2 separate regions of the Homo sapiens genome follow, and region 1 is linked to region 2. A link means that fine-mapping ties the variant in region 2 to the expression of a gene that starts in the linked region. Tissue or cell type: whole blood. Region 2 holds a variant in brackets; the other region holds the start of a gene. All regions are shown on one strand. Distances are between the middles of the regions.

Region 1 (2,682 bases), 51 kb before region 2:
AATTACACAAGATCTGGATCGTATGTTTACTAAGAAACCAAAAATTATAGGTTCTGGGGCGTTTCAACATTTCACCTGAGATGGCCAGAACGGGCGCATCTTTAGACCTTTAAAACCTAAATTAAAAACTATCAGTACCGAGGAAGGGCCGAAGAGCTCAATACCCACCCAATACAACCCCCACTTCCGACCTACAGACGCTCTGCTGAGCGGCTGGGAGAATCCGTCGCGCCAGTCAGGGCCCGGCTTCTTCCAACAACAGACACTTTGCGAGCCTTCCAGAAGCCTTGGCTAAGCGAGAAGGCAGGGTGGAGGCCGCCACTGCGAGGACGGTCCCCACCCAGCTGCGAGGAGCTCGCGGTTCCCCAGAGGGGCGGGCCTGCGTCCGGGTAACCGTGCGCGACGTCCACGAGTTTTTAGGACGACCAGCCCTTCAGCCTCTAGGCCCCGACGCCTGCGCCATTTAAGCCACATATCCGCCCGCCCGGCCGCGGCCAAGGCCGGCGGCAGCTACGTAGCCGCCGCCGCCCGGGGCCCCACAGCCCACGGGCCGGATGGACCGAGCGCCGGCTGCGGCGTTCCGGTGCGCGCGCGCGCCTCAGCCAATCGCGTTCTCGCCCGCCCCCCGCCGCGGCGGCGAGGCTGGCGCTGGGAAGAGGAAGAAGAACATTCGCCCTCCTCCTACCAGCGCGCGGGCGGCGGCGGCGGCGGCACCGGGGTCACGAACTCTGACCTTTCACTGACAAAAACAATAACAAACCCCCCCTTCTCCGCGACCCCGGCGGCGCCCCCGGGCCCGTCCCCGCCACCCCGCTCCCACCTCGGCGTCTCGTCTCTCGCCCGCTGCCCCGCGAGCCCGCGGCCCCCGGGCTCCCGCCATCCGCCGACACCGGGAGCCCGGGCTCCCCGCGCCCTGCCCTCCGCGCCGGGGGCCGCCCGCCGCAGACACGGGACCCGCTTCGAGGCCGCTTTGGCGCCAAATCCTGAGGTAAAATTGAAAGAGGGTCGGGCGGGCTCGGGCCGGCGGCGGAGGGGGCGGGCCTGGCGCGCGGACATGGAGGCGCCGCGGCGGCGGCTGAACCCGACCCTTTTACCTTTGCCACGGGGTGGCGGCGGCGGCGCCCGGCGCTTTGCATAGTGGGCCGGGCCGCTCCCCTCCCCTCCCCGCCCGCGGCCGGGCGAAGCGAGCGGGTTCCCCCTGACCGGCCCGGCCGGCGCAAGGGTGGGGGTGGAGGGGGAATGGCCGCGGCCCCGCCTTATAGTTGGCCCTCCGCCAGCGCCGCCATTTTGTTCTCGACGGAGATGGCTCCGGCTGGGCGGGCTCCCTTCCTCCTTATCCTCCTCCTCCTCCCGCCTGCAGTCCCTTCTTCCTTCTCTGCCGGGATTTTCACCCCTCCGCTTCTAGTCCGCCTTTGGCGGCCGTCGCAGCCCAACCGCCGTTTTTTCTGAAGGGGAGGGTAAAAGAAAAGGAGGAAGGCGGGTGCGAGGCGCGACCTCGTGAGCGACGGATGGGCTGGCTAATTGGCGCCCAGATAGGAGGGCCGGGGCCTGTGGCACCGCCCCCCTAAGCTTTGCTGATTGGCTGAGGCGGAAGAGGGTGGTCCTTATGGGGCGCGGGAGCCCTGGCGGGGCGGGAGTAGAGGCCGGGGCGAAGAGTGGGGCCGGGTCGGCGGGGGCGGGGCCGGGGGCGGGGCGCGAGGGGCGCGGCCGGGTGGAGAGGCCGGCGCCTGGTCTTGGGTCAGCAGGTGGGCTGCTTCCCTCCGCCTGGAACGCGTCTCGAATGAGTACTGAGGAACAATAGTAATAAAGGTGATGAAGCATTTCGAGTCCACGATGCGCTCTCGTGGGAAGAGGTTTTCGGAACCAGGACACTTTTCAGGGCTCCTGCTCGTTATTTCGCAGCGGCCTTGGCGAATCCCCTAATGAGGCTCAATTTTATCGACTGTAAATGGGGGGCATGCGCATTCTTGCCAGGCCGGACCTCCCTTCTGAGCATTGTTTGTGGGGCTCTACTCAGAAAATGGAGGCAACGCTACTTTGCGAGCTTCAGAGTCACTTGAAAATGGTGTTATTGTTAAAAATGGGATTACAGCCACCAGGAGAGGCAAGCGTTAAGGGTATTTGGGGTTTGAGAGAGCACAATTCGGGAGTGATTCTCTTCTCATTCGTTCGCTGAATACATGTTGACTTAGTTTTTTAGGCACTGGGGACACATCTGGAGAACCAGCTGTACAAGACCCCTGCCCTCACTAGAGTTGGGGGCTGGGGGGTGAATAGACAAATAATTCCAGAGAGTCATAAGTTCTGTGAAAGAAAAGAAGCCAAATGACCTGCTGAAGAAGACCTGAGGCGTTAATTTAGATGGAATGGTCAGGGTGGCCTCTCTGAGTAAGTGATGTTTGAACAGAGGAACCCAAGGGAGGAATGGCATTCCAGACAGGACATCCCGTGTAACGGCCCTGGAGGAAGAGCATTTGATGTGATCGAGAACTGGCTGCTTGTGGCTGGAGAGTTGGTTGGAACTAGTAATTGTCCATTATCCCACTTTGTTTCCAAGCCAAAGGCTGTGAAATATAGCAACGGTAGTGAGGAACAAATCTTCAATGTAATAAGAAAGTCGAGGAAAATACAGCCTTCATATGAATTACTGATGAATACATGACTTGGGAGGAGGGCCTCAGA
Region 2 (2,682 bases):
ACTCAACCAAAATTTTAAATGTTCATTATTAAAGGATGCAATGAATATGCTCTGATAAAGTGATTGGCCAGCCTTTTCTTTTCAGTTATAAATAAACAGAGCTAGCAGTTATGTGTACATGGATCCTGGGAGACATACCTTGCAGGATCTCAGCCTCACCATACCTCCTATAAAATGGTTGTGCTTGTCCTGCCTATTTCTTAGCCAAGAGAGAGCTAATCCATATTTTTTAAGCTAAAAGTCACTGTAAAAATACTGGATTCTGTTGACTTCATTGTAGTGAATTTGTTGTTAAAATGTATGCTTATGAAAGAAAAAAAAATTTAATAGCCCAGTAATGAATTAATTGATAATATTTTATCAAATTGAGATATAATTCACATACCATAAAATTCATTTTTTAAAAATATACAGCTTAGTGGGTTTTAGTACATTCACAAGAGTATGCAACCATCACCACTATCTAAATCCAGAATGTTTTTATCATGCCCCCACTAAAAAACCCACATCTCTTAGCAATTATTCTTGCTACCCCTGTTCCCCTGTCACCTGGCAACCACTAATCTACTTTCTGTCCCCATGGATTTGCCTATTCTGGACATTTTAAATAAATAGAATCATGCAATATATGGTGGTCTTTCGTGGCTGAGTCTTCCATGTTGTAGCATGTATCAGCACTTCATTCCTTTTTATTGCCAAATAATACTCCATTACATGGATATACCATGTTTTATTTATCCATTCATCATTTGGGAGATATTTGAGTTGTTTCTACTTTTTGCCTGTTATCACTAATGCTGCTGTGAACATTTGTATACAAGCTTTTGTGTAGACATGTGTTTTTCTTTGTCTTGAGTATATACCTAGGAGTGAAATTATGGGTCATATGGCAACTCTGTGTTTACCCTTTGAGGAACAACCAGACTGTTTTCCAAAGTAACTGTACCATTCTACATTACTACCAGCAATGTATGAAGGTTCCCATCTCCACATTTTCACCAATACTTGTTATTGTCCATGTTTAACATTGTAGCCATCCTAGTGGATATGAAGTGGTATCTCATCATGGTCTTGATTTGCATTTCCCTAACTAATGACCTTGGAACATCTTTTCCTGTGCTTATTGGCCATTTGTATATCTTCTAGGAGAAATTTCTGTTTAACTCTTTGCTCATTTTTAAATTGGGATTTTTGTCTTGTTATTAAGTTGTAATGATATATGATTTGCACTTTTTTTTTCCCCCATTTTATAGGTTGTCTTTTCACTTCCTTGATGGTGTCTTTTGAAACACAAAACTCATTAATTTGAGTTCAGGTACGCTGGCTCACACCTGTAATCCCAACACTTTGGAAGGCCAAGGAGGAAGGATCACATGAGCCAGGAGTTGGAGACAAGCCTGGGCAACATAGGGAGACCTCATCTCTGCAAAAATATTTAAAATTAGGTGGCGCACGCCCATAGTCCCAGTTACATGGGGGGCTGAGGTAGGGAGATCACTTGAGCCTGGGAGGTTGGTTGAGGCTGCAGTGAGC[C/T]AAGATTGTGCCCCTGCATTCTGGCCTGGGCATCCAGGAGTGAGACCGTGTCTCAAAAAACAAAAAAAAAATTTTTTTTAAGGCCAGGTGCAGTGGCTCACGCCTGTAATCCCAGCACTTTGGGAGGCCCAGGCGGGTGGATCACCTGAGGTCAGGAGTTGGAGACCAGCCTGACCAACATGCAGAAACCCTGTCTCTACTAAAAATACAAAATTAGCCTGGTGTGGTGGCTCATGCCTATAATCTCAGCTACTCAGGAGGCTGAAGCAGGAGAATCACTTGAACCCAGGAGGCAGAGGTTGCGATGAGCCGAGATCGCACCATTGCACTCCAGCCTGGGCAACAAGAGTGAAACTCCGTCTCAAAAACAAACAAAAAAAATTTAAATTGGCCCGGCATGGTAGCACACACCTGTGATCCTAGCTGCTCAGGAAGCTGAGGTTGGGAGGATTGCTTGGGCCCAGGAGGATGAGGCTGCAGTGAACCATAATTGTGCTACTGCGCTCTAGCACAGGCAACAGAGTAAGAGATCTTGTCCCCCCCAAAAAAAAAGTTTCTAGTTTTAATGATTATTTTCTAATTTTTCTTGTGCTATTTTTGCTTTTGGTGTCATCTAAGAAACAATCACCTAATTCAAGTTCACGAAGATTTACACCTGTGTTTTCTGAGAGTTTTATAGTTTTAACTCTTACATTTAGATCTTTGATCCATTTTGATTTTTTTTTTTTGTAATAGTGCAAGGTAGGTGTCCAGATTTGTTCCCCTGCATTTGATTTCCACTTGTCCCATCACCATTTGTCGAAGACTGTTCTTTGCCTATTGAATTATCGTGGCACCTTTATCAAATTTGAACATATAGGTGAGGGTTTATTTCTGCATTCTCTGTTATATTCCATTGGTCTGTATGTCTTGTCTTTATGCCGGTACTGCAATTTTTTTAAGTTACAAATTGAGTTTATATTGCATATATTTACAGTACAAAGTGATGTTATGATCCGTGACTACAATGTGTAAAAATTAAATCAAGCTCATTAACATATCCATCACCTTAAATACTTATTTTTGCCATGAGAACATTTGAAATTTACTCTTAGCAATTTTGAAATGTACAATAGGCTATTATTAACTGTATTCGCCATGCTGTGCAAT

The links. PIP is the estimated chance that this variant, and not a neighbour inherited with it, causes the effect.
Region 1: it holds the start of FGD5-AS1, and the variant in region 2 is fine-mapped to the expression of FGD5-AS1 in whole blood (INTERVAL, PIP above 0.99).

Annotation. Positions count from the first base shown.
Region 1 is chr3:14,946,919-14,949,600 of GRCh38, forward strand. It overlaps FGD5-AS1 (FGD5 antisense RNA 1), which reads right to left and starts at 1,523. Exons shown (of 2, transcript NR_046251.1): 1 at 1,095-1,523. It overlaps NR2C2 (nuclear receptor subfamily 2 group C member 2), which reads left to right and starts at 665. Exons shown (of 14, transcript NM_001291694.2): 1 at 665-988. RefSeq lists enhancers at 1-505, 1,194-1,881, 1,328-1,527, 1,882-2,569 and silencers at 288-717, 768-837, 858-1,277, 1,668-1,727.
Region 2 is chr3:14,997,421-15,000,102 of GRCh38, forward strand. The region is part of intron 1 of NR2C2 (nuclear receptor subfamily 2 group C member 2); the gene reads left to right. Among named protein-coding and RNA genes, the nearest start is that of FGD5-AS1, 50 kb to the left of the region's middle. The variant C/T (reference allele first, on the strand shown) is at 1,534.